Linked DNA regions of Homo sapiens: all the other regions are linked to region 1. The links come from fine-mapping of genetic effects on gene expression. A gene starts in region 1. Each other region holds a variant in brackets. All regions are shown on one strand. Distances are from middle to middle.

What was found.
Region 2: its variant is fine-mapped to the expression of CYP1B1 in whole blood (TOPMed, PIP above 0.99).
Region 3: its variant is fine-mapped to the expression of CYP1B1 in whole blood (TOPMed, PIP above 0.99).
Region 4: its variant is fine-mapped to the expression of CYP1B1 in whole blood (TOPMed, PIP above 0.99).
Region 5: its variant is fine-mapped to the expression of CYP1B1 in whole blood (TOPMed, PIP above 0.99). The same link has a PIP of 0.9 or more in T cells, blood mononuclear cells and monocytes.
Region 6: its variant is fine-mapped to the expression of CYP1B1 in whole blood (INTERVAL, PIP above 0.99).
Region 7: its variant is fine-mapped to the expression of CYP1B1 in whole blood (TOPMed, PIP above 0.99).

The regions. Positions count from the first base shown.
Region 1 is chr2:38,074,091-38,078,156 of GRCh38, reverse strand. CYP1B1 (cytochrome P450 family 1 subfamily B member 1) reads left to right here and starts at 2,006. Exons shown (of 3, transcript NM_000104.4): 1 at 2,006-2,377; 2 at 2,768-3,811. The coding sequence starts at 2,769. RefSeq lists silencers at 891-1,010, 1,921-2,010, cis regulatory regions at 1,054-1,083, 2,004-2,011, an enhancer at 985-1,183 and a promoter at 650-2,025.
Region 2 is chr2:38,171,851-38,175,916 of GRCh38, reverse strand. The region is part of intron 2 of CYP1B1-AS1 (CYP1B1 antisense RNA 1); the gene reads right to left. It also overlaps a transcript of LOC107985871 not described here. Among named protein-coding and RNA genes, the nearest start is that of CYP1B1-AS1, 43 kb to the right of the region's middle. The variant T/G (reference allele first, on the strand shown) is at 2,247.
Region 3 is chr2:38,147,071-38,151,136 of GRCh38, reverse strand. The region is part of intron 2 of CYP1B1-AS1 (CYP1B1 antisense RNA 1); the gene reads right to left. LOC107985871 (a long non-coding RNA gene) reads left to right here and starts at 971. Exons shown (of 4, transcript XR_007086290.1): 1 at 971-4,066. It also overlaps the pseudogene RNU6-951P. RefSeq lists enhancers at 3,876-3,965, 3,996-4,066, 3,376-4,066, 3,490-4,066. The variant A/G (reference allele first, on the strand shown) is at 2,028.
Region 4 is chr2:38,257,584-38,261,649 of GRCh38, reverse strand. No RefSeq gene overlaps it. Among named protein-coding and RNA genes, the nearest start is that of ATL2, 120 kb to the left of the region's middle. The variant G/T (reference allele first, on the strand shown) is at 2,075.
Region 5 is chr2:38,122,794-38,126,859 of GRCh38, reverse strand. All of the region lies in intron 2 of LOC107985871 (a long non-coding RNA gene), which reads left to right. Among named protein-coding and RNA genes, the nearest start is that of CYP1B1-AS1, 6.3 kb to the left of the region's middle. The variant C/T (reference allele first, on the strand shown) is at 2,033.
Region 6 is chr2:38,113,744-38,117,809 of GRCh38, reverse strand. All of the region lies in intron 3 of LOC107985871 (a long non-coding RNA gene), which reads left to right. Among named protein-coding and RNA genes, the nearest start is that of CYP1B1-AS1, 15 kb to the left of the region's middle. The variant C/T (reference allele first, on the strand shown) is at 2,386.
Region 7 is chr2:38,128,138-38,132,203 of GRCh38, reverse strand. CYP1B1-AS1 (CYP1B1 antisense RNA 1) reads right to left here and starts at 1,099. Exons shown (of 3, transcript NR_027252.1): 1 at 1,014-1,099; 2 at 590-693. All of the region lies in intron 2 of LOC107985871 (a long non-coding RNA gene), which reads left to right. The variant G/T (reference allele first, on the strand shown) is at 1,914.

The sequences.
Region 1 (4,066 bases):
AAACAAAAACAATAATTAAAAAGTTCTTCCAGCTGATTTTTTTTTTTTTTTTTTTTTTGAGACAGAGTCTCACTTAAACTCTGCTGCCCAGGCTGTAGTGCAGTGGTGCAATCTCTGCTCACTGCAACCTCTGCCTCCCACGTTCAACCAATTCTGCTGCCTTCCCCCCTGATCCCCGAGTAGCTGGGATTACAGGTGTGCACCACCACGTCCGGCTAACTTTTGTATTTTTAGTAGATGGGGTTTCGCCATGTTGGCCAGGCTGGTCTCGAACTCCTGACCTCAAGTGATCCGCCCGCTTAAGCCTCCCAAAGTGCTGGGATTACAGGCGTGAGCCACTGCGCCTAGCCCCACGTGCATTTTTTTTTTTAAGGGAGGCAGGAAAGAAGGCATTTGGGCCTCTTATCTGCAATTTTCTTCCGTGTAAACTTATGTGAAGGATCTGGAGTGGGACTTGGTGGCTTCAAGCCCTGGCTCCACTTCTTGATGGCTGCGCGACCTGGGTTAAGTCACGCAACCTCTCTGAACCCTAGTTTATTCATCTGTAAACAGGTCAATAATAGCACGAGATTCGCAGCGCGAGTGGAGCTCAAAGTGCAGGGTTGTCCCTGGTGAACCTATCACTTTTATATTTATCCTTTGATGAAGCCAGTACAATTCCTACCTGGTTAACCAGATACATCCCACCTCTTCCCTCGAGTTCGCCCTTCCCCCCGCCTCGTGAAGTCCTTGTTCTCTTAGCTGTCTTGAAAATCCTATGCATCAGCATGTAGGAAAGGGCGCGCCAGGCGGGGGAAGCCACCCCCGCCCAAGCGCCTCCGGCTTCCCTTATAAAGGGAGGGCCCCCTTCGCGACCGCAAGCGCGCCCAGGAAGACCACAGAGCCGCCGGTGCGCAGCGAGGTGGCGATACGCGCCCGGGCTCGGCCTGCGGGTGGTGGCCCAAGCGTCCGCCTCGCTGGCCTGGCAGGCGCGACTGTGCGTGCGCAGCCGAGGGTGGTGGCGGCCGGCACCCCACGCCAAGGGTGGTGGTGGCCGGCACCCCACCCTCGGCCGCCGCCTCCGCGTGTCAGGTGCCGTGAGAAGCGCGGGAGGAGCGGCCGCAGGCAGCGCCCAGGGATATGACTGGAGCCGACTTTCCAGAAGCGGCGCACGCAAAGCCCAGCTCCGCACGCAAAGGGGAGGCGACAGCAGAAACTTCAACCCGATAAAGTTCGCCGGAGCGCGGAGATTCGCCTCCTCCTGCCACTCTCCGCCCCGCTCGGGTCCCGCCCCGCTAGCTCCCCCAGGCCCCCCCAGTCGCCCCAGCTTGGCTCCCCGCCCTGCGCCAACGGCTTCCATCGCAGCCTGGGCGGCCCCGCGCCCACCAGCGGGCGGCGCCACCTGGAGTGGCCTCTACGCGGGAAATCTCAGGGCCAGCTGCGCCCCAGGAGCCTTTGTGTGCCCAAGCACTGTCGGGGCCCCGGGGCGGGGGAGCGGCTACTTTTAGGGATTCCTGATCTCGCCGCAAGAACTGGAAAAAATTTAGCATGCCAAAGAGCCTCCACTGAGGTGGCAATTTGTTTGCGAGAACCTAAGATAAAATTTAAACAACCAACCAGGGGCGCTGTGAGGCAAACCGCTGCCACTACACTGGCTTTCCGGGAAGCAAGCTCAAGTCGCGGAGAGGGAAGGGAGGTCGTGCGCTCGGGGCGGGGCGCGCTCCCAAGTCGAGCGCAGCGGCCGGGGCAGGTTGTACCGAGCGTGGTTCTGGGGACACCGTGCGGCCTCGATTGGAGGTGGCTGTGATGAAGCGCGGTTACCGCACAATGGAAACGTGGGCACCTCCGCTCCCATGAAAGCCTGCTGGTAGAGCTCCGAGGCCGGCCGGTGCGCCTGGACGGGAGTCCGGGTCAAAGCGGCCTGGTGTGCGGCGCGCCCCGCCCCCCGCAGGCCCCGCCCTGCCAGGTCGCGCTGCCCTCCTTCTACCCAGTCCTTAAAACCCGGAGGAGCGGGATGGCGCGCTTTGACTCTGGAGTGGGAGTGGGAGCGAGCGCTTCTGCGACTCCAGTTGTGAGAGCCGCAAGGGCATGGGAATTGACGCCACTCACCGACCCCCAGTCTCAATCTCAACGCTGTGAGGAAACCTCGACTTTGCCAGGTCCCCAAGGGCAGCGGGGCTCGGCGAGCGAGGCACCCTTCTCCGTCCCCATCCCAATCCAAGCGCTCCTGGCACTGACGACGCCAAGAGACTCGAGTGGGAGTTAAAGCTTCCAGTGAGGGCAGCAGGTGTCCAGGCCGGGCCTGCGGGTTCCTGTTGACGTCTTGCCCTAGGCAAAGGTCCCAGTTCCTTCTCGGAGCCGGCTGTCCCGCGCCACTGGAAACCGCACCTCCCCGCAGGTCAGTCTGTCTGCCGAGGCGCTGCCCGGCGACCTCTTCAGATGGATTATTACAGGTAGCGGGTGGCGTGGTAGGTACTTTAAAGGAAATCAAGCGCCACCGCCTCGATGCCCGCAGCGTTGTCCCCAGATTGCAGGAACCGTTACGCGCCTTGCGGGGAGGGGAAGGGTTTGGCGCTGGGTTACAGCGAGGTGGAAACACGCCCCTTCTCTTCTCCAAGGGAGAGTGGGTTGGGGATGGGAAGGGGCGTCTTCGGCCATTTCTCCAGAGAGTCAGCTCCGACCTCTCCACCCAACGGCACTCAGTCCCCAGAGGCTGGGGTAGGGGCGTGGGGCGCCCGCTCCTGTCTCTGCACCCCTGAGTGTCACGCCTTCTCCTCTCTGTCCCCAGCATGGGCACCAGCCTCAGCCCGAACGACCCTTGGCCGCTAAACCCGCTGTCCATCCAGCAGACCACGCTCCTGCTACTCCTGTCGGTGCTGGCCACTGTGCATGTGGGCCAGCGGCTGCTGAGGCAACGGAGGCGGCAGCTCCGGTCCGCGCCCCCGGGCCCGTTTGCGTGGCCACTGATCGGAAACGCGGCGGCGGTGGGCCAGGCGGCTCACCTCTCGTTCGCTCGCCTGGCGCGGCGCTACGGCGACGTTTTCCAGATCCGCCTGGGCAGCTGCCCCATAGTGGTGCTGAATGGCGAGCGCGCCATCCACCAGGCCCTGGTGCAGCAGGGCTCGGCCTTCGCCGACCGGCCGGCCTTCGCCTCCTTCCGTGTGGTGTCCGGCGGCCGCAGCATGGCTTTCGGCCACTACTCGGAGCACTGGAAGGTGCAGCGGCGCGCAGCCCACAGCATGATGCGCAACTTCTTCACGCGCCAGCCGCGCAGCCGCCAAGTCCTCGAGGGCCACGTGCTGAGCGAGGCGCGCGAGCTGGTGGCGCTGCTGGTGCGCGGCAGCGCGGACGGCGCCTTCCTCGACCCGAGGCCGCTGACCGTCGTGGCCGTGGCCAACGTCATGAGTGCCGTGTGTTTCGGCTGCCGCTACAGCCACGACGACCCCGAGTTCCGTGAGCTGCTCAGCCACAACGAAGAGTTCGGGCGCACGGTGGGCGCGGGCAGCCTGGTGGACGTGATGCCCTGGCTGCAGTACTTCCCCAACCCGGTGCGCACCGTTTTCCGCGAATTCGAGCAGCTCAACCGCAACTTCAGCAACTTCATCCTGGACAAGTTCTTGAGGCACTGCGAAAGCCTTCGGCCCGGGGCCGCCCCCCGCGACATGATGGACGCCTTTATCCTCTCTGCGGAAAAGAAGGCGGCCGGGGACTCGCACGGTGGTGGCGCGCGGCTGGATTTGGAGAACGTACCGGCCACTATCACTGACATCTTCGGCGCCAGCCAGGACACCCTGTCCACCGCGCTGCAGTGGCTGCTCCTCCTCTTCACCAGGTAAAGCCTCTGGGAGGCGTGGGCCAGGTCTTTTCTCCTCTGAAAAAGGCGGAGTAGAGACAGAATATGCTGAGTTTGCAAGCAGGGCCCCGGGTTTGGGGTTTCGCTCCAGGTCCCCACCCCTCAAAACCAAGATCGCGTCGGTAAAGGGACTCACAGTGAGGGCTGCGACACGCGCACGCGCCCCACCCAGCGGTGCCCCGACCCCTCCGGTCTCCTATCTTGTCTCTATCGTCCCCTCCCCTGCTTGCGAGT
Region 2 (4,066 bases), 98 kb before region 1:
ATATAACTAAAACCATATTAATAATCTTTTAATCGATGCCAAGTCTTTCTTCTGGTTTCTTTATTTAGGTTAGTAACAGTATCATTCTTCTTTTTCACGCAGCCACCAAATCACAGACCTCCGTAGGCTCCTGTTGGTGAAGTCTTGCCTATCCTACCTCTAAGAATTTGATCCCTCTTTTCCATTACTACCTCCAAATTCCTAATTCAGACCCCGGTCACCTACCACCCATTCTAGCTTAAGAAGCTGTCAAGCATAGTGATTAAGGGCAGGTACCTGTGTCTAGATTAAAACACTGCCTCTTCTGCTTTAGCTGTGTGAATTTGAGCAAGTTGTTTAATCACCCTAAGCCTCAATTTTATCATCTGTAAAGTGGGCTAATAACGGTTCTTGCTATCAGAATTAAATCAGATTATGTATATGAAGTAGCATCTGCAAAGCACTCAGTACTGGTAGTGATTAGTACCACCTGTTCTCTCATGACTCCATTTCATTTGACTTACCACCGCTAGGTTTACCTTCAACAAGGCAGCCCTGATCACGTTTTAAAAATCCTCAGTGCCCCCACCCAGTATCAACCTAACACATAACAGTCCCATTTTGGCATTCCAAATTTTCCATAAGTCTTATGACCTCCTACTGCCTTAAATTTACCCTCTGTTCCAGTCAAATGGACCACTTCCCTCTTCCCCACATCCTCTCCACAGTATAGCCTCTGTGCGTTTGCTTACATTATATTTTCTGTTTGATTCACCCTCCCTTTCCTTCAAGGTCTTACTTGAATGGCTGCTCTCTGATGACTAAATGTCTTTTTCTCTTCTTTTATAGTCTCTGCACATAATTGCACCTGTCTAACATGATGACCTGCTTTCTTCCTGGTCCGGCATGTTCATCTTACCTCTCTAGCTGGAGGAACCTTCATTCACCTGGCTTCAAGTCACCACATGTCAGCATTAAGGCTGAAACGTTCAAGCAGTCATTTCCCCTCCTGCCAACAAGATACTAAAAAACCAATTTGAGCAAATTCTCCACTAAGCCACTTGGCTAGATCAATGTTTGATACACAAGGTCTTGCTCAAACAACAGCCAAAGCTGGAAAAAAATTGTGGCTATGAGACACGGAAAGGATCTAATTATTCTTCCTTAAGCAATGTTCTTAACCGCAGCCTGTTTCCCAGCTTCTGAGCACTCTGCTTGAGTGATTAGCAATGCAAGATTGCACATTGGCCTTACCTCATACAGGATGAGGTAGTTCAATCCAAATTTCTCAAATAGTTTTTAACTTTTTTCTTCCCAGTATGTCTGTAAGAGCTGGAAAATCATTCAATAGTTTTTAAAGAAAATTTGTGCCTTTAGCAGCAACTGGATGCAAACATCAGTTCTCATTTAAAAAAAAAATTTCAGCTTTATTGGGGCATAACTGACAAATAGAAATTGCATGTATTTAAGGTATATGACTTGATGTTTTGATATATGTATACATTGGAAAATGATCACCACAATCAAACTAGTTGACTTACCCATCACCTCACATAGCTGCCTCTTTTCTTTTGTGGTGAGAACACTTAAGATCTACCCTTGTAGCAAATTTCAAGTCTACAATACGGTATTGTTAACTGTCGTTACTATGCTGTATATTAGGTCTCCAGAACTAACTCCTCTTGCATGGCTGAAGCTTTGTACCCTTTGACCAACATCTCCTCATTTCCTGTATACCCCAGCCCTGACAACCACCATTCTACTCTCTGCTTCTAGGAGAGTAACTATTTTAGATTCCACATATACAAAAGATCAGGCAGTATTTGTCTTGCTGTGACTGGTTTATCTCACTTAGCATAATGTTCTCCAGGTTTGTCCATGTTGTCACAAATGGAAGGATTTCCGTTTTCAAATATCAGTTCTCTTCAAACCGTTTGAGTACCCTGAGAAAGTTTTTGGTTTCCAGTGGCTGCTCCTTTCAGAAACTATGCTACTTTCTAAAATCTCATTTAGGAGTAGCAATACTTTACTCCAGACACTGGCCCCAGACCAGTGTGGGAGGAAAGCCGTGAATCCTTAAAGAAAGTGATGCTTTAAAAGTCTGAGGTTAAATTCCATTTTGAAAAGTTTTAGCACAACTTCCCTTCTCCCCAGAGCTGAACCTCACTTCGTGCTATTTTTTACTCAGTTCAAGAGTGTTTTTTTTTTTTAAATAACTTGTCTCCTTATGAATTTTAAATAAGTTAATTAATAGGATATTGCTAGTT[T/G]AAATCATAATATAAATTCAGAAAATATTTTATAAATGGACCTATGCCATTTGGACTTAAAAAAATTATAAAGGCTTGAAACATTTGTGTGCATAATCCTGTTTTTATAATTTCAGTATTTTGCATTGAAATATACCTCACACTACACAGCTGACCTGGCAGTTCTATGAATGGCATTCAAAAAAGTCAGTCTTGTTTCATGAATTTATCTGTCAGCAAAATGCCTCTTTTATTATTGTTTTAAAATATATTTATCGGATTCACTTTTGCCTTTTCTTATGACGTTTGAAGATATTTGCATTTGCTTTTCTCTTTCTCCCTTTTTTTTTTTTTTTTTTTGAGACAAGTTCTCGCTCTGTCACCCAGGCTGGAGTGCAGTGGCGCCATCTCAGCTCATTGCAACCTCCGGCTCCTGGGTTCAAGAGATTCTCTGGGACTTCAGGTGTGTGGAAACTTGCCTGGATAATTTTTGCATTTTTAATAGAGATGGGGTTTCACCATGTTGGCCAGGCTGGTCTCGAACTCCTGGCCTCAAGTGATCTGCCTGCCTTGGCCTCCCAAAGTGTTGGGATTACAGGCATGATCCACCACCCCAGTCCTTCTTTTTCTCTTTTGAAAAGAAGTTTTAAAATTCTTTAAAAAGTTTTTCAAGGAAAATTTTCCCAGGAAATAGGAAAAATTTCAACCATACACAAAAATAGAGAATATAGTACTGGACTTCAAACATCAATCACTTAAATTCCAGAATTATCAGTATTTTCCTACTTTTACTTCTGTACATTTTTCCTTCCTTCCTCCTTTATTTTGGCTGATGTATGATAACCGAATCCCAGAATTGTGTCATTTTAGCTTTCTGTATCTAAGTGTTGATTGCTAAAAATAGTGGTGTTTTCTTACATAAACACAATACCATTAATCACACCTATCAAAACTAATAATATGTTATTGGTATCATCTAATACACTATCCAAATTCAGATTTCCCTCATTGTCTTCAAAGTGTTGCATTGACGATGGTTTGAGGCCAGGTGTGGTGGCTCATGCCTGTAATCCCAGCACTTTGGGAGGCCGAGGCAGGCAGATCACTTTTGAGCTCAGAAGTTTGAGACCAGCCCAGGCAACATGGTGAAACTCCGTCTCTACAAAAAATACAAAAATTAGCCAGGCACGGTGTTGAGTGCCTGTAGTACAAGCTACTGGGGGAGGTTGACGTGGGAGAATCACTTGAGCCCAGGAGGTTGAGGCTGCAGTGAGTTGTCATTGCACCACTCCATTCAGCCTGGGCAACAGAGAGAGATGCTATCTGAAAGAAGAAGGAAGGAGGCAGGAGGAAGGAGAAGGAGAAGAAGAAAAGTTGGTTTGCTCAAATCAGAATCTAAGCAAGGTCCATGCAGTGCATTGAATTGTCCAGGGATGGAGAAGAGGCTGAAGAAGAGGCTTAGGTAAGCAAGAGCATCAGTGCAGGGGAAGTTCAGGAAACACTGAGCTGGAGGAAAGGATAGAAGCATTACTTGAATAATGATCTTTGAGAGGTGCAAGTCATGATTGGAACAATTTTAGCTATTATTTAGCTACTAGATATTGCCTCTTTAAACATAATTCCATGCATAGACTGAAACTTGGAGGATCCCAAGATTTGTTCTATTTAGAGACCTGACTTCCAGAACTATTCTACCTCCTCCATCACTTCTTACTCCAGTAAATATCATGGAACACCCTTCTCAGGTTGAAAAGAAATTTAGAGACTTCCAGAGTAGGCATTGTCACAGCTTTTGCTGGCAATCCATTACAAAATTAGCTGTCCCTATTTTCAGAGGAGTG
Region 3 (4,066 bases), 73 kb before region 1:
CATATAAACTTCAGGATTATTTTTCTATTTCTGTGAAGAATGTTATTGGTATTTTGATAAGAGATTGAATCTGTAGATTACTTTGGGTAGTATGGTCATTTTAACAATATTAATTCTTCCAATTCATGAGCATGGAACGTCTATTTGTTTGTGTCTTCTTCAATTTCTTTCATCGGAAAGAATTTATTAAATTTGATTAAATTTATTCCTAGACAATTAATTTTTTATAGCTATTTTAAATGGGATTACTTTCTTGATTTCTTCTTCAGCAAGTTAATTATTGGTATATAGAAATGCTATTGATTATGTATGTTGATTTTGTATTCTGCAACCTTGTTAAATTCATTTATCAGTATAGCCATTATAGAAAACACTATGGAAGTTTCTCAAAAAATTAAAAATAGAACTACCATGTGATCCAGAAATCCCACTGCTGGGTATTTATCCAAAGGAAAAAAAATCAATATATCAAAGGGAGACCTGCACTCCCATGTTTATTGCAGCACTATTCACAATAGCCAAGATACAGTATCAATCTAAGTGTCCATCAACAGATGAATGGATAAAGCAAATGTGATACACACACACACACACACACACACACACACACACAATGGAATACTATTAAGCCGTAAAAAAGAATGAAATTCTATCATTTGCAGGAACATGTATGGAATTGAAGGGCATCTTGTTAAGTAAAATCAGCCAGGCACCGAAAGACAAATATTGCATATTCTTACTCATATGTGGGAGCTAAAAAGATGGATCTCATGGAGGTAGAGAAAAGAATGGTAGCTACTAGAGGCTATGAAGGGTGTGTGGGATGAAGAGAGGTTGGTTAATAGGTACAGACATATAGTTAGACGGAATAAGCGCTAGTATTCAGCCTCAAAGTAGGGTGACTATAGTTAACAAAAACATATTGAGTATCTCAAAATAGCCAGAAGAGAAAATTTGAAATGTTCCTAGCTCAAAGAAATGATACATGTTCAAGGCGATGGATATCCTAAATACCCTGATTTGATCATTACACATTCTATGGCTGTGTCAAGATATCACAGATACCCCATAAATATGTGTAATTATTATGTATCAAAAACTTTATATAAAAAACATTAATTTGCTGTATTTTTGATTCTACAATTGGGCAGCACTTTATTCCATAAAATAGAATGAGTGTTCTGATGAGCCAAGAAGAGGAGGTTGGTTTTACAGACAGAAAAGGGCTGTGGAAAGCAGAAAAAAACAAACAAAAAAAATGTGGATTGGTCATTTCAAAGTTTCTTTTCATGTAAAGGTTAAAGCAGAGGGGACTTTCTTGTCCTGCTGGCACTGGATCTAGGTCAGTGTTGGAGACGATGTCTGGGACTCAGGGCCTTCGCAGATCACAGAGGCTGGTCTTGCACAACCTCTAAGAGGCCAGGCCAGGCCATGGCTTACCTAAGAGCTCAGCCCAGGGAAGCCCTAGGTCCTTTCCTGGCATCTTAGAGGGAACCATGTCTTACTGGCTCAGGCTAGACTTGCACATTAATCCACTGAGTTGACTTTGGATCTTACAGGCTCAAAGGGTGGTCTTTGGGAGCAGGAAGTGATCAGGACCCTGGTCAGATTCATATATCTGCAACTGAGCCCACTCAAAGAAATAAATAGAAAAATTACATATTTTTGGTTATTTGCCTTAATGTCACAGATTACCATTAGGCCAAAGATCTTCTGAGGTATATGCGTACAAGGTGATTTTTTAGTGTTTTTTTTTTTAAATTCTCTCTTTTTCTATAAATTTTAATGATGACTTGAGTATAAAACAAGATGATCCACTCTGCAGCACCAAAGGTGGGCAAGAGAAGAGATCAGAATCTGGTATGAGACTGAAAATCACTGTGGCAACCAGCTTCAGTGGGGCAGCTGGGGTTGGCTCTGAAGAAAGTCTGTTCCATTTGTATAGCAGACAGGAGCCCATGGGGTTCCCATCAGCTAGCACTGGGAGTGGACTTCAGAGGCTGCACGGGCTGCTGTTGGACTGGTCT[A/G]GGGGACGGGGGAGGAGGGAAGATGCCTGTGAGGCAAGGCAGAAGGGCTTCTAGACCTCAGACTGAGGGTCAGGGAAGACCTATCTTCCTAAAGGTGTTGGGGAATAGTTAGGCTAGCAGATCAGAACAGGTCAAAAGAATAAGCACTATGGTAGAGGCTATTGTGGGTTTGGGGAAGGGGAGAGAGAATAAAGGGAGGAGAGATCTGCAGCTTGTGTGCCTACACTGTTTCTCAGAAGCCTAGGCCTGGGAGCTGGTTAGCAGCAAGAACACACAATAGGGAAAGCCCCGTAATTGTCCTGGCTCCTGGCACTGGGAGACTGACTTAGTTCTCATGGCGAGGAGCTCTCTGAGAGTATCACCCGGGCAGAAATGTAAGGAGCACACCTGGTTTTGGCCAGTCATTGCCATGTTTGCAATAACATGGCTGTGGGCCAATATCATTAGGCAACTTTGTGACTTGGTCATTGAGCAATGATCGAGGTCCTATTTGAAAGCTAAGGTCAAGCTTATGAAGCAATGCCAGCTTGTAACATCGTGCAGGTTTATTTAACACAGATGAAACCAAGACATATCTTTACCATCCAGGAGTAAATTATCCCAGGCACAGGGAAAGATGAAGTAGGAATGTTTCTTTTGGTGTCTTCCATGTCTAGTTTCAGAGACCCCATTCAGCTCCCATCTCACTCTGTATCTCACCCCTGGCCTGTGCTCTATTCTCTCAGGGCCACGATCCTTCCTTTAGTCTTCCTCCATCTCTCCATCCCTCTTTCCTTCCTTCTTTCCTCAAATATATTTTTTGAAACAGTACTCAGGATTTTATTTGTTTATGTTTTAATTTCAACTTTTATCATAGATTAAAGGGTACACATGCAGGTTTATTACATGGGTAAATTGCATCACCCTGAGGCTTGGGATCCCAATGATCCCATCACCCAGGGAATAAGTATAGGACGCAACAGGTGGCACTCCAGCCCATGCCCCCTGCTCCCTTCCTTCCCCATCTAGTGATCCCCAGTGCCTATTGTTCCCATCTTCGTGATCATGTGTCTTCAACGTTTAGGCCCCACTTACAAGTGATAACATGCAATATTTTGTTTTAGGTTCTTACATTAGGTCATTTATGGAGGTCATAATGCCTTCCACCTCCATCCATGTTGCGAAAGGACATGATTTCATTCTTTTTTATGGCTGCATAGTATTCCATGGTGTATTTGTACCTCATTTTCTCTCTCCAATCCACTGTTGATGGGCTCTTAGGTTGATTCCATGTCCTTGCTATTGTGAATGGTGCTGCAGTGAACATAGGAGCATATGTGTCTTTAAGATAGGATGAATTACTTTCCTTTGGGTATATACTCAGTAGTGGGATTGCTGGGTCTAATGGTTGTTCTATTTTGAGTTCCTTGAGAAATCTCCAAACTGTCTTCCACAGTGGCTCAACTAGTTTGTGTTTCCATTAAGAGCATATAAGCTTTCCCCTTTCCTCTGCAGCCTCACCAGCAACTCTTATTTTCTGTCTTTTTAATAATAGCCATTCTGACTGGTGTGAGATGTTATCTCATTGTGGTTTTGATTTGTATTTCTCGAAATTATGGAATGCTGCATAAATTTGTGTGTCATCCTTGTGAAGGGGCCGTGCTAATGTTCTCTGTATTGTTCCAGTTTTAGTACATGTACTGCCGAAGCGAGCACTTGAATATTTTTTGAGCACCCGGTATGTGCCAAGGGTAGAGCAGAAAGTCTCTTCTCCCATGGGTCTTATATTCTAGTCAGGCGAGACTTACTACAAACAAACATAGAGCCATTGAACATATCAGGTGGTAAAAGGTGCCACGAAGGAAAATGAAATAGGGGAAAGGTACACTCAGCATGTCCAGGAAAGACTGGTCTGACAGGATGCTCTCTGAGGAGAGCCTTGGAAGCAGTGAAGGGGAAGCCAGATGGGTATGTGGGGGCGAAAACAAGGGGGGCCCAAGGCCTCAGGTGGGAGCCATTCTCGAATCAGCAGGGAGGCCTGTGTGGCCTCACTGCTGAGT
Region 4 (4,066 bases), 180 kb before region 1:
GTGGATCCAGCAAGGCCCACAGATCAGCAAGGAAGCCAGAGAGTGGGACGTTTTTGGTAAAACCCGCTGCTGGTGATGGCCTGGAAAGATGTTTTCTGAGAAAGCTTGGGCAGCTTGAATGCTGGGAGAGGGTGTGGTGGTCCCTGGGGCAGGAGACCCTTCTTTCTGACTCTGTAACCACAGCCCCGGTCTGCTTCATCACTCCGTGGGCAGTGATGGTCTGTGCCCAAAACGCTGTGATTCGAAAAGAGATAATTTGCAGGCAACATGAAGAAGTCCCAAAAAAGACAGTATTAGAAGAAAATGTCCTTCAAGAGTTTTAATGTAGGTGGAGAGAAGGCAGGATGGAATTCAAAATCATGTTTTGAAAGGACATGGTGTCCTTTCAAAGCTCCAAGCGTTGCTTTGCTGTGCTCTGGGCATGCCTTGGGCTGGATGGGAAGAAAAGTGAAAATAAAGTGTGTGTGCATACATGCATGTGCACGTGTGTGTGTGTGTGTGTGTGTGTGGTGTTTTCTAAAATATCAGAGGACAGGATGTCTGACAAAAGACTCTTGTTAAATGTGTTGTTGAATTAAGTTGCCTTGGAAAGAATTTCTAAAAAAGCTTTCAGAATCAACACTTCTCAGTTTCTCAGCAAGGATTTTGCCAGAGCAATAGAAAAAGACATTACATTGTTCCCAATTCAGTTCTAGCACTCTCTTTTTTTCCTTGCATACTGTCTTCACAGGAAGGAAAAAGTTGTCTAAGGGAGGAAGACTCAGGGCGTTGCATCGGGACTCCCCGTTCTCCTCTAAATCCTACCTCTTACGATTCTTTTCAACTCTTTTTCCAAACTTTTAAAGGCTTTGTGGACTTCTTAGAAACCGAAAGTTCCCAAGAATAGAATACGTGTCCACTGGAAGTCCCCGTAGGTGCCCAGGGCTGGCGGGACTCTCTTGGTGGTGTAGGACCTTGCTTGGATGTTGAATGTGTGGGAAGGACACCCACAGGGGGAAACCCAGGATGGTGGACGTGGGGCCAAAATATGCAGCAGCTGCAAAGGATCTGGGTACTTGGCTCTACTGCCCTCTAATGTGAGAGAAGCCCAGATCAACACGGGAGGGAGTGGGCGTTAGACAACCTGCAAAGAGACAGATCTGAGAGGTGCGGCTCCCCGTGGACTTAGTGTCTTTCAGTGAAACCACCGTTCACTCCTGAAGATCTGAAGATGGAGGAAGTTTTTCCCATCCTACTCTCCCCTTTTAATTTCCTAAGCAAAATATCATTTCATCTTTCTCAGTCCATCTTTTGTGTCTGATGAATGGATTGAGCTAGATAATCTCTAAGGTCTTTCCAGCACTAACCTCCTATGCAAGGTTGGCTGCATAATTTGCAGGGCCTGAAAATGCAAGGCCCTCCTTCGAAAATCAAGGAAAAATGATGTGAAAATTACTAAAACATAAAATTCCTTCCTTTCCTCTGTACTTTCCCTCTCGACTTGTCATGAAGTTTTTAAAATTTATTGTTGTTCTAAGAAAAGAAAAATTAAAATTTAATGATATTAGCATAAAATGGCAATTTTAAATGTAAATAGAAGAACATTTAAATTTTACGCAGAATCACTAAAATTATACAATTTATATTTCTCAGTTTGTACATTCATATATATTTTGTGTTTGCCAGAACAATGGAAATGCTATACAAAATGAGCTCAGATTGTTTTCATTTCATTTTTTTGTATGAGGACTTTCTACCAACAGTCTGTACCTTTGACTTACTGATGAGTAAAGAAAAACTGAGCTGGGTGCACAGGCTCACACCTGTAATCCCAGTGCTTTGGGAGGCTGAGAGGGGAGGATCACTTGAGGCCAGGAATTTGAGACAACCCTGGGCAACATAGTGAGACCCTATCTCCACAAAAAAATTAAAAATTAGCTTGGCGTGGTGGTGCAGGCCTGTAGTCTTAGCTACCCTGGAGGCTGAGCTGGGAGGATCGCTTGATCTCAGGAGTTCAAGACTGAGAGCCATGATTGCAACACTGCACTCCATCCTGGGCAACAGAGCAAGACCCTCTCTCTTTTTTGAAAGAAAA[G/T]GAAAGGAAAAAGAACAACTGAAGGGAAAAGGAACTATGAGTTGCCCCATTTCCCCCTGTCCTTCTGTGTCACCATTTTCACCGTAATTGGTTGGCTAATACAGGAAAATCACATGAGTAAGAAAGCAAAAAGCTGATACAGGAAAAAAAATCAACTGTTTCTGTAAAAAGTAATAAAAAAGGAGCCATCACAGGATCTTTAATATACAAAGATGTTACAAGAAGAAAGAAGGAAAGTAGTAGGAAAAACAAATATCAAATGAAGTGCAGACTCTAGAAGAATGTTGCAGCCCATGTCATAAAACTATGACATTAAAAAAGAATGAGGCCGGGCATGGTGGCACATGCCTGTAATCCCAGCACTTCGGGAGGCTGAGGTGGATGGATTGCTTGAGGACAGGAGCTCCAGACCAACCTGACCAACATGGTGAAACTCCATCTCTACTAAAAATACAAAAAATTAGCCAGGCATGGTAGTAGGCACCTATAATCCCAGCTACGTGGGAGACTGAGGCAGGAGAAGCGCTTGAACCTGGGAGGTGGAGCTTGCAGTAAACCAAGATTGTGCCACTGCACTCCAGCTTGGGCAACAGAGTGATACTCCATCTCAAAAAGAAAAAAAAAAAAAAAAAAGGCCATACCACTTACCTGTTAAAATGGCCAAAATCCAAATCCAAAACACTGCCAACACCAAATACTGGCAAGGATATGGAGCAATAGGAACTCTCATTCATTGCTGGTGGGAATGCAAAACGGTAGAGCCACTTTGCAAAGCAGTTTGGTAGTTTCTTACAAAACTAAACATACCCTTACCATACGATCCAGCAATCATGTTCCTTGGTATTTACCCAAATGAACAAAAACTTGCACACAAATGTTTAGAGCAGCTTTATTTATAACTGTAAAACATGGAAGCAACCAAGATATGCTTCAGCAGGTGAATGGATAAATAAACTGTGGTACATTTAGACAATGGAATATTAATTAGTGCTAAAAAGAAATGAACGATCAAGTCATGGAAAGACACGGAGGAACCTTAAATGCGTATTACTAAGTGAAAGAAGCCGATCTGAAAAGGCTTCATATGATACCAACTATATGACATTCTAGACAAGACAAAACTATGGAGACAGTAGTAAGATCTGTGGTGGTCAGGGGTTTGGGGGAGGGAGGGCTGAAATGGCGGGGCACAGAGGATTTTTAGGGCAGTGAAACTACTCTCTATGATAGTATAATGGTAGATACATGCCATATATCTGTCCAAATCCATAGAATGTACAACTCCAAAAGTGAAGCCTAATGTAAACTATGGCTTTGGGTGATATTGATTTGTCATTGTAGGCTCATCATTTATAACACGTGTATCCCTCTTGTGGGGGATGTTGATAGTGGGGTGGGGGCTATATGCACATGCAGTCAGGGAGTATATATGAATACTGTATTTTCTGCTCAATTTTGTTGTGGACCTAAAACTGCTCTAAAAAATAAAGTCTATTTAAAAAAAAAATATGACTGGGCACAGTGGCTCGTAATCCCAGCACTTTGGGAGGCCAAGGTGGGTGGATCATTTAAGCCCAGGAGTTCAAGAGCTACCTGGGCAACATGGCGAAACTCTGTCTGTATTAAAAGTACAAAAAAATTAGCTGGGCATGGAGGTGCATGCCTGTAGTCCCAGCTACTCCGGAGGCTGTGGTGGGAGGATCTCTCTCTCTCTCTCTCTCTCTGTCTCTCTCTCTCTCTCTCTCTTTTTTTTTTTTTTTTTTTTTAAGGCAGAGTCTCAGTCTGTGGCCCAGGCTGGAGTGCAGTGGCACAATCTCAGCTCACCGCAACCTCCGCCTCCTGGGTTCAAGTGATTCTCCTGCCTCAGCCTCCCGAGTAGCTGGGGCTACAGGCATGCCACCACGCCTGGCTAATTTTTGTATTTTTAGTAGAGACAGGGTTTTGCCATGTTGGCCAGGCTGGTCTCAAACTCCTGACCTCAGGTGATCTACT
Region 5 (4,066 bases), 49 kb before region 1:
CTGCCCATTATCCAGTTCCAAAGCTGCTTCCACATTTTCAGGTATCTTTGTAGTAATGCCTCACTTCTCTGGTACCAATTTTCTTCATTAGTCTGTTCTTGCATTGCTATAAAAACTACCTGAGACTGGGTAATTTATAAAGAAAGATGTTTAATCAGCTCACAGTTCTGTGGGCTGTAAAGGCTTCTGCTTTTGGGGAGGCCTCAGGAAACTTACAATCATGGCAGAAGGTAAAGGAGAAACAGGCACACCTTCACATGGCCAGCAGGAGAAGGGCAGCGGAAGTGCTACATGCTTTCAAACAACCAGATCGCCTGAGAACTCTATCATAAGGCAGCACTGTGGGGATGGTGCTAAACCATTAGAAATCACCCTCATGATCAAATCACCTCTCACCAAGCCCCACGTCCAACACTCAAGATTACAATTTAACACGGGATTTGGGTGGGGACCCAGAGCCAAACCATACTATGCACTAACTCATTTAAGCTGTTGTTATCTTAATCATGGGCTCACTGTAGAATGGGAGTGGTAGGAAGAAACATTAAGTGAGTGGTCATAATGGTGGCTTAGAATTCAAACCCATTCCATGTGACCCCTCACCCATGCTTGGCAAATTAAATCCATGATAATCCAAAGGGTTTCAAAATCGATTTTTTTTAGGTCTAACCGTTTCCTTCCCATTCTTATCATTTCCTCTTCCCTTAAAGCAAATTCCCTTTATTCTTACCACCCACTAGAATGGAGACTTGAAATTAGGTTCTTTCAGCTTGCCAAATGATAAACAGCTCTCTCAAATTAAGCCACATCTCATCCAGAGAGAAGGCAATAAAAATAGTGATTTATGTGGTTGAGAGTACAGTGAGACGTTTTTATAGCATCACAGATGGTTTTCCAAATTGCAGAGCAGCTTTATTTCTTTCTGCATATCTCAGTTTCTCAGTCCACAATTTGAAAATAATAAAGCTGCCCTCTTCCTACTTCTTGGGTGAATTGGTTAAATCATGAAAATCTATAAATAAAAGCACTTTGAATCCTAGAGAGAAGAGTCAAATAATAAAATAATCCCATTTTTCATCCATATGATGAAATTATATAAGGTCCCCCATATAATGGGGGACCTTATATAATGAGAAGGCTAGGCATATTGCTATGTTTGTGGGCAAATGATCTGGCCCAGAGAACACCTGACTCCTAGGAGTGTCAAGCTGGGGAAGAGGACTCAAGTATATACACAGTACCGTTATTTCAGATGTATCTTTGATAGCTCTAAAGTAACTACTGGAAACACCTATAGGGTGGCATGATAAGATAACTGAGATTTACATTTATACTTTACTACTCCCATTGGTTTTAAAAAACAAGACTGCTTGAGTTTGGTTTTCATCATGGCGGCTTCAGTCTTAGCCCAGGCTCTCCACATACTCTCTGTTCCAACTTCGACCCTAGGTGTACATGAGATCCATTCTCAGCACCTCTGGGCCCATTCCCTTCTACCCAAGCCAGGAGTGCTGGGTGCTGAGATTTAACAATCCAGATCAGAAGCGGCACCATGCAGTGTTGAGAACACAGGCCCTGGAGCAAGTCTGCTGCGTGTGAATCCCAACTCGCCTCTCTGACCTGGCATATCTCCTTATCCGTGATATGGGCATGGCACTAACATACCTACTCATAGGACTCTGGGGACAGTTAAACGAGACAGGGTCCATAAAGCACTTAGCTCACTGCCTGGTACAATAAATGGTGACTACTTTTTATAGGCAATTGTGAGAAACATGGTGAATGTGGGCAGGGTAAAATAGTTGGATTGGTGCTTCTTCTGCAGGTGGCATTCAACTCTTTTTGTGTTTGTTTGTATTTATTTTTCTTATAGCAAATTTCCTTTTTTAAACTGTGACCAAACAAATAGAATGATTGCTATGGTTTTACAATTTGCATGGCTGAATGAATATACCTTTGATAGTTTTTTTTATCATGTTTCTAATTGTTAGAAAAAAATTCTTTTTTCCTCTTCTGGGATTTCAGGGCATTA[C/T]ATTGGAAAATAGGTATTAAACTGATATGGGACAGAGGCCATGGCATATATCCTACAAAATCTGTATCTACACTCTTATATTATACTTACTTGCCCATATCTTTGAACTTGGGGCCAATCATAAGATCCTACATTCTAGTTACCAGAAAAAGAACATAGTAATTGAGTATGTAATTGAATATTGTTGGCTGGGAGTGGTGGCTCACGCCTGTAATCCCAGCCCTTTGGGAGGCCAAGGTGGGCGGATTACTTGAGGCCAGGAGTTTGAGACCAGCCTGACTAACATGGTAAAATCCTGTCTCTACTAAAAATTCAAAAAAATTAGTCGGGGGTGTTGGTGTGTGCCTGAAATCCCAGCTACATGGGAGGCCGAGGCAGGAGAATTGCTTGAACCTGGGAGGTGGAGATTTCAGTGAGCCAAGATCGCACGACTGCACTCCAGCCTGGGCAACAGAGCAAGACTCTGTCTCAAAAAAAAAAAAAAAAAAAAAAAAAAAGTTTATGGGTGAGTATTGAGCTAAGTGCATTATCCCATTCAATCCCCAATCTTATGAAGCAAATACTATCATTAGCCCTATTTTACAGATGTGGAAAGTGAGCCTTAGAGAAGTAAGTAATTGCCATAAGTCACACATCTGAGAAATAATGAAGTGAAAATTTGAACCAAAAGCATCTGGATCCAGAGCCTATGTTTTAGGAACTTGCTGTGGCTTTGATGCATCAGAATGTGGGAGCTGCAGGCCTGCGTGGACTAGTCTTGGACTCTTAACTGCTCTGCCATCCCACAGCAGCTGATAGGTTCATATGAAGCCACTGGCAACTGGTGCCAAGTTACCAGTAAGAAAATCAGACATTTTGATCTATCTATCAATTGGAATGTGCATGTCCAGAATAGATCTAGATATTTTTTAAAAAGCATTCAATGCCTAATTTTTAAACAAACTGCACATGCGAAGAAAATGCCCATGCATTTCTTTAAGCAGAAATATAAGTTAGTGAATTTGTTTCTTCTTGATAAAATGGTTAGAATTTGCTTAGAAATTCCTTTTATCATAAAAGTAAAAATTATCAGCTTTAACCTTCTCATTTGTCTCCTACTGCTTCTTTTCTTGTTCTTTATTCTCATCCATCCCCTTCTCTGTCTTTGCCTCTACTCTTCCTCTATTCCTTCATAAGAATCTAAACAACTCCTTTAAACATCAATTCAAATGTTCTTCCCTTGGATAGAGATCACTTCCATCCCCTTCATAACTAGCTGGGCCTAGTACCTTTGGGTTAGCAATTTTGCCAGAGATGTTGGAGAAAAAGGGGGTAGCATTTCCTCTTGAAAATCCAGCCTGCAAGGCATTTACAATCTCATGCTGGTTTCGTAAGGCCCTGCTGTCCCTCCAGAATAGAGGCCCACAGCACTCACTAGGTACCAGGCATGGTGAACTTGCTTGCCCAAGCTCTCTAGTAGGTGGCAGATTTACCCAGGTCTGCCTGACTTTAGAGCCTATTCTTTTAATCATTGTACCTTACTGTCTTTATAGACAAGGTCAGGCTCTCTATGCTTCTGTGAGATAATTTTCCCTAGGAGTGTAAATAGTTACTATAGAGACACTAGATGCCACCTGCTATAGCCCTCAGAAGTGGCATCAGACTATGCCTGGGCTTTCTGTTTTAAGGACAAGGAAGAATGAGTGTGACAGTGAAAGGTTGTATTTGTAAAGGCTGGAAGAGCAGAAATCCCCAAGTGCTAGAGAAAAGAATGTGGACAAGTGTATGGTATCCAATCATAGTATGTTAGAGCTGAGTTGGGCTTTAAAGATGATCTCCTCTAACCCCTTTATTTGCAGTTGAAGACGTTGAGGATCTGAGACATTAAGTGAATTGTCTGAGGACACACAGCCAGTTTCTTAGATGCAGAGCCAAGGATGAATTTTTTTCATTCAGACTAAGCTGTTTTTTGCAGTCCACCTTTACTCTACTTGGGGTTCATTTCTTTTTAAGAAGTCTCAAAGATTAGAAAATTGAGTCATTTTGAGCAATATA
Region 6 (4,066 bases), 40 kb before region 1:
GCCTTTTGAAATGTACATAGAGAAGCCTCGGGTTTTGAGTAGAAAGGTCTTTGTCCCTAGCTCTAACCCAACTGTGTGACCTTGGGCCTAACTACTCCATCTGTTAAATGGGGAGCATGGTCATACGCCCCACTGCATTTCAACAGCTGATTCTGACAAGATACCGCTGACTGTCTGCCCAGCAGCCATTCTTCACTTCATTCCAACAAACCCTGATTTTTTTCAAATATTCACCCCTTCCCCATTGCAGTCTTTGTACTTCCAGGTTAGGCCTAAATTGTCTAAGTATAATCTCATCCCCCTGCCAGTGAGAGGTTCAGGAATAGGCATATGGACCAATTAGGTTTAATAAGATTTATGGGGAAGTTTGCTGGGGCTTCTGGAAAATTCTCCACCTTTAAGAGAGAGCCATAGGAAAAGAGAGTCTCTCCCTCTGGATGTTGTCAAGCTTGGCCCTATTATTGCAATAGCCATGTTATCCCCAGCCTGAGAATTAAACTGAACACAGATGAGGCAGAGCTGAGAATCCCAAGGAAATGGGATTGGAACTGCTGAATTAGGCAAACTTGAAGCTTGCCCTGCCTCTAAATTTCCAGTTATGAGGGCGAATTCTGATGGCGTACACTCTTGGAATCAGTTAACTTTAATTTATAACCGCAGTTCTGATCATCATCTGTTTAATTTTCTTTCTTAATTATAGTAAATGTTTTTTTCTTTCATGGGCTTTCCTTCCAACTTCTTGTATCCTTCGCTTTCCCAATTTTGAAAAAAAAAAAAAAATGATGCCTCAAGGGAATATTTGAGTGAAAAGGATAGGCCTTAAGCCAACAGTTCAGAAATGACTCATTTAAATCTGCAGAACTGAGAGAGCCCAACCCAGGCCTTCCAGTTTGGTCATAGAATCAGAAGATTTTTCAAGTCGGAAGGAACCTTGATGCTCAACAAGTCCTAATCCCATTTTGTAGATGAGGAAACTGAGGTTCAGAAAGATATTATGAAAGTGCCAGACAGCTGGGTACTCCCCAGGCAGCACCTTCACAAGACTTACCTGGTACCCCAATTTGACTCCTGTCATATTTCAGTGGGGGGGATTTAAGCCAAAATATATCACAATTGGTTCTTTGAACCCTTTGTTTCCTGGCAAATCAAAGTTCCTCATTTGTAGTAAGAACTCAAAGAGCAATGTTCCTATCACCACACTGGAAGTCCAGTCTTCTTTTAGACCTCACTAGTGATTTCTTTCTAGAAGTCCCTAGGGAAAGTCCTCACAAATAATCCAGACTTCTCTCTGCAGTGCCTGTGCTCTTGGTCTGCACCCCTTGCTACCTTCTGCTACTTCAATTATTATTTCTTCGTACTCCTTGCTCACAATCCAGGCTGCTGTCAACTGCCCCCCACCCCCGCCCCCCCCACCCAGTGCAACTCTATCTCTGCTCAGCCGGTGAGCCATTGTCCAGGTTCCTTCTGGCTGTCCCTGGATTGCCACTTATTCATGTTCTTTTCCCTTTCTAGCATGAAGAAAAACTCCTGTTCCATGGCAGCTGATTTCTCCCAGGAGATCTGGGCCTCTGGTGGGCAAATTGCTGCTCTCTTCCCCAGCAAGCTTCTCCCTGGAACACATGTGCACTCGGGGGAATGGGTTTGACCAGGGCTGGTTCCAACCCAGCATTACACTGTCTGTGGGATCACATCTCTTTCCAACATCCAGTTCTGACTCCCATTCCCCTCTGTTTAGCTGCTTCTTCACACAGGATGCTTCTCAGAAACTTCACTTCCAAATTATGGGGTGGGATTCAAGCTGGAATTCTTCATCTATGATGAAATTTTAAAATGGTATTCAAAGCTTTGTGCAAAATAGCATTTTATGGTACGTAAACCTCTAATTTTTATCAGACTCTCAAAGGGATCTGCTAGAGACCACGGGCCTCTAAAGCTCTTTAAGTTCTAATGTTCTGTGACCCTGTGATTGCATAATATGATTTTGTGGCAAATTTGCCCAAAGCAGAAGCATTCAGTCACTCTCCCAAACTGCTCTATTACATTCCTAAGTGAGTACAAGAGTGTATGCAAGCATTTTAGCCTTATTCGCACAGAAGATATTATATTAAGAGAATAATCAAGGATTCAGCATCAAAAGCTTTATCAGCAAGATATTAGTACTCTACCTAGAAGACTATTCTAACCTCAAGTACTATAAATATTAGGAGATCTTTATTTTCATAGCAGCAAGATCTTGGAAACTGTACTGGTGAAAAAAAGATGGTGCTTAGAACTCCTGCCTCCCTTTTTAGTTGCTCTTTCTGTTCAAGGAGTGGGATGCATGGGAAAGGTGGCCTGGCTCCCTTCTCCTCTGTGTAGCCTGTAGTTCTACGATTGGCCCCTAGA[C/T]GGCGATCTTGTGTTAGTGAGGGACATGGTAACTAAATGAAGTGGGAGCCGGCAGTGACTGATGGCTGAAACTGTCAACAGATCAAATGGTAAGAAGTGAATAGTAGTGATTTTTAACCGTGGTTGCAGGATGAAATTGGAAAAGTAACACAAAATCTTCCTATATTACTTAGAAGGAAATTTGGAAACACTTAGAATTAGTCTGTGTATTGAAAACATGATTTAAGTGTGATATTTAGAGGAAACTGTCAATTAAAAAAAATTTTTAAATTATGGTAAAATACATATAACATAAAGTTTGCCACGTTAACCATTTTACAAATGTGCAGTTTTTAAACCAAGTGCACAATCGGTAGTGTTAAGTGCATTCATGTTGTTGTCCAACCAGTCTCCAGAACTCTTTCCATCTTGCAAAGGTGGAACTCTGCATCCATTAAACGGCAACTTTCCGTTACCTCCTCTCCCAGCCCCTGGCAAACAGTATTCTACTTCCCATGTCTATGAATATGAGTGCCTCAGAGAAGTGGAAAAAAGTATTTGTCTTTTTGTCACTGGCTTATTTCACTTAGTATAATATTCTCAAGTGGGACCTGCCAATTTTCATTACAAAATTATTTTTTAATTTGTAAAGAAAAACTGGCAATTAGTAAAAACCATAAGACTGGACATTGTCTCATGCTCACAGCTTCACAGGCAAATGCACTCATTCAAACCAGTAAAAGTGAAAACCTCCATCCACAAGACCCACCAGGAGGTCTCATAAGGCTCTATTAAACCTGCAAACTCACAAGACTGCCAAGGCCCACTCTAGACAGCAGTTGACCCAGAAGATTCATAGGCCAGGAGGCAGAGCATGTCAGTAGGGCACATCCAGACTTCCTCTTCTGCGGGACCTCGCAGCAGACCACAAAGCCATCCACACAGTGGGCAGAAGCTATTCTCTTTGGCCCCCATGTGGACTGAGTTGTGAAGAAATGAGACTCACATCAGTGGGGTGTGGAGGCCACACTATATGAGAGGCCCTGTATTTCACAGCAGCTAATATCTCTTGGAGGAACTCCATGGCCATAACTTTCATGGTCTTCTCAAGGTCATGCCAGTTACAAGGGTCACTGCACTTAGGGAAACTCGAAAATATGGCTTCTTCTCTGGTATTTATAGTTGTCCCAATCCAGATAGGATTTACCAATCAGGGCCCACTTGTACTTTCCTTTATCAGGTTTCCATGGGAACAGAGCTAGGAAGTTAGCCAAAAATCAAATGCTCATGCAAAACTGGAAAGGGTTTCGTTAATCCTTTATTCACTGCCCTTCACATGGTTAGATTACAAAGTCTGACAAAGCATCCAGTTAAATAGAAAGGAGTCAGAATGACAAACTGATATGAAGAACTAAATTACACAATGGCATTTGTCATCTCTTATTTGTTACAGCTGCTTTGGTGTTCAAAATGGATGCGACTTTGCACAATGCCTGGTTACTTCTGGGGAAAATTTTCCATTTCAAAGCTTCATAAGAGAATAAATTATATTTGGGGGGTGGATTTAAATACAATTGGAAGAGGGTTTCTCTCTAAAGTAATTTCTATAGAAAATAGTGAACAGAGATTAAGAGAGCAAGGAAAAACAAATCTGGGCTCCAGAAGGAAGCCAGTTAAGAAAGTTGACTGCCAGAGGGCTGGT
Region 7 (4,066 bases), 54 kb before region 1:
AGACTATGATCTGTTGCTGTGTCAATCTGAAAGCTGAGGGATCTGAAGGGTACGTGGTACCCATTCTCTGACTCTCACTCCCAAAAGTCCTTTTCTCCCTGGGTCAACATACGGTTGGTGCCCAAGGCCCTTCCTAGGAATTGGAAGCCAACAGTGACACAAAGCACTTAGGAGGCACACAACCACAAATGTGTGAGGTTTGCCTTCCCATATTTTCTGGACCCATGTTCAAGCCTGGAACTCTCTAGTTCATAAAGGGTTTTACTCTTGCAGGAGTCAGCAAACTATGGCCTGTGGGTGGAGGGCCAGATGGGGCCATGCTCATTCATTTACATACTGTCTAATGGTTGCTCAAAAATCACAGAGTTGAGTAACTAAGACAGACTGGAAGGCCCACACAGGCAAAAAATGTACTATCCGGACATCCACATAAACAGTTTGCAGGCCACTGATTTAGAGTAAGACCAGTTCTCCTGGGGGCAATGGATTGTCTTTCTTTGCTTTCAGCCTGACCAATGCCCGTGGGTAGGGATGGAGAGGGAGCCCATCTCTCTAGTTGATTCTGATGAGAAGAACCAGGGTGACCCACCTGGAATGTGAGCCTCTGATCTTCCAGGCATCTGGCATGCCCATTTCTTCCACAGAGCAGGATAGAAGCTCCTCCCAGCAGGGGGTCTTGACTATTTGAGACCACTGTAAAAGAAAAGTAAGAACAAGTGATTCACGTTTGTGTTTCCTGTAAAAAGAACATGGTTGTCAGTGCTATTAACCTGGTTACCACTGACTTTGACGCAGATACAGCCGGTTCATGTTTCAGAACTTCATGAAACAGGCCTGTGCCTTCAATCAGAGGCAGCCCAAAAGACAAAATTGCCAACACTTTCTATTTGCAGTGGCCCAGGAATTATCAAATAACCTTAGTTCCTATTAAACTCCTGCCTATTTACCATTGCCTAAACCTGGAGGCAAAATCTAAATCCAAACCATCACAGGTAATCTCCAATCTCACATACTTTTCCAAAAGATTCATGTGTTAGGAAAGGATGATTGATGGCTCAAAAGTCACCAGTGCCGATTCTTGTGTTAGCAACCATAGTTGAAGTCAATGCTTAGAACTGGCGTGGGAAGATGTTCTCAAAACTGCAGCTTTGTGCCTTTGTGGTTATGTAACAGCCTCCTCCATACAGAGGATTACTACGAATGGGTGCTTCCTGCTGTTGTCTCATGTTGATGAGGCATTTTATATTCTTGAGGAATATTCTGGAGGGAGGAGGTTGGTGAAGACTGGTAAAGTAGAGAAGAGAGACATTTTAACAAAATATTCATATTTATCTGGTCTCTAACATGAAAGCTGCATATTTTGTGGTATATTAATTAAGTCATTTTTATAAGTTATAAATGATACTAGTACAGTAAGTCCTCACTTAATGTCATCGATAGGTTCTTGGAATCTGTAACTTTAAGCAAAACAACATGCAGCAGGTTCATAAATAATGTCACTTCCTTTAACGTTTTGTTATAACGTTGATGAGAAAAAAACGCTTTTGTTACATGTCATTTTGCTTAAAGCTATAGTTTCCAAGAAACTGTCGATGACATTAAGTGAGAACTTACTGTATAATAACATTATGTTAGAGTTTAGTGGGCTCCCAAAAGATCTTCTCTTACCAGGTAGACAGTTCTCTCTTTTAGAGATAAAAGAATTGAGCCTCACAGAGGCCGTATGAGCAGTCAGAGTCCCACTATGTTCCCACCTACCATTCACCACTAAATCCTTAGTCTGGCTGCAGAAAACAGAAAAGATTTATTTCCTCAAAAGTCAACTTCTTTAGACTACATTGACCCTAATAGAATTCAGAAAGCAACTCTTAGACTCAAATTTTTCTGCTTATTGCCACCACCACACTCCCCCA[G/T]TCATATGACAAGAGTCGTTTGCGGTAGGAAGCAAAACCAGAAATGCACTTGAGCAGTCTTTCTATGTCCTTCCTTGCCTCACCCCCATTGGGGGCCTGCATGATGGTGAGTGGCCACATAAACAGTCCCTACGTCTCCAGGAGTTCCCTTGGCCATGGCTGCTGGAATGACTCATCCTTCTCCATCTGTAGCCTAGGCTTTCCCCTTCTCCTTAATTTCCATGAGGGAGCAGTCTTAGATCAGAGCCTCCCCAAGGGGACAGGACCACAGCCCTCCCTAAAAGGTCCTGGATCTGGTATAAATCTAACCATGGGAGAAAACAGAATTCAGTTACAGACAACATCAAGGGCAAACTTGAAGGGGAGCAAAAATCACAATATGGGTGTGGGAACTGGACCACAGAGTTACAGTGGTCATTTCCTCCCCACCACATCTTGTGAACTTTACCTTGCCCACTGCCCCAAGGGGCAACCATGTGGCTCATGGCCCTGGCCACCAATAACTGAATTGGGAGTAGACCCACTTTAAACATGACCCACTTTAACCAATCAGACATCTTTATCTAGAACTTGGAGTTGGGACACAGAAAGCCTGAGGGTGTTTTTTTATCTGTGAGTGCTAGACTCACAAGATTCTGTGGGCTCAAGGACTGAGTTAGACAGTCATTTAAGGTCATGTGGTAACAGAGTATGCTTGACGAAGGGGGAGGATGGAGCAGAGACAAAGATAACTGAGAGAAAGGGAGGAGGAAGGGCAGCTCCAGACTCTAGCCCTTCAGTGATCCAGGTGCAATTCTTCAAACTGGGTTTCACAGTATTCCGTTATCACTGTGCAAGTAATCCCCATTTACTTAAGTTACTCTGAGTGGGTTTCTGGCCCTAGCAACTGAGTGCTCCCCCACCATAAGATGAAATGGCTAGGCTGGAGCTGGGAGGCAGAGGCAGTGAGTGAGGAAGCTAGACGGATTTTTCCAGAGAAAGTAAGTCCTAGAGTCCAAGCATATGCACGCTATCCACACGTTCCAAATTTTAGGAGACAGCCCTGTTTCAAATGTGCCAGCTTGCCCAAATTTCTGTTTAGGCAATTGTGGTATATCTGTTTATATATATAATTTTAGCATTGGGAAGGCCCTCCTAAGTAAGACACAAACCTGGAAACCACAAAGAAAAGAAAAGATTGACAGATTAGACTACCTAGCCCTAAATTTTAAATTGCCTTTGACAAAAGCCACCATCAGCAAAATTAAAAGTGAAGGGGCAGCTTGGGATCTAAGTGACAGCTGGAGAGCCCCTGCACACTACAGACTCCCTCCTGCTGCAGATCAGACTTCTGGACAAGTCCAGCCCTGGCTTTGTGGCTGTCATGACTACTGAAAATGTCGTAACTGTTGGCAGCAAGAACATGACCTCTTGCTGTCCCAAAATGAGGAAATGAAAGGGAAAAAAGAGGAAATGGGATGAAATGAAAAATGGATGCAAACAACAGAGAGTGAGCAAGAAACATTGAGAAAGATGAAAAAAATGAGCTGTTTATCTCTCCTCTGCTTCTGGGCCCTCTCCTTTGTGCTACCCTAGTGATGTGCTCTATTGGTCCATTCTTACGTTGCCATAAAGAACTGGGTAATTTATAAAGAAAAGATGGTTAGTCAGCTCATGGTTCCTGTGGGCTGTACAGGCTTCTGCTTCTGGGGGAGGCCTCAGGAAACTTACAATCGTGGCACAAGGTGAAGGGGAAACAGGCCATTAGCAGCAGGAGAGGGGCAAAGGAGATGCTACACACTTTCAAACAAGCAGATTTCCTAAGAAATTGGGGGAATGGCGCTAAACCATTAAAAACCACCCCTGTGATCCAATCACCTCCCACCAAACCCTCCCTCCAGCACTCGGGATCACAGTTCAACATGAGATTTGGGTAGGGACACAAAGCCCCACCATACCATTCCACCCTTGGCCCCTCCCAAATCTCATATCCTCTCACATTGTAAAATATAACCATCCCTTCTCAACAGTCCCCCAAAGTCTTAACTCATTCCAGAATTAACTCAAAAGTCCAAGTCCAAAGTCTAATCGGAGACAAGGCAAGTCCCTTCCACCTATGAGCCTGTAAAATCAAAAACAAGTTAGCTACTTCCAAGATACAATGGGAGTACAGG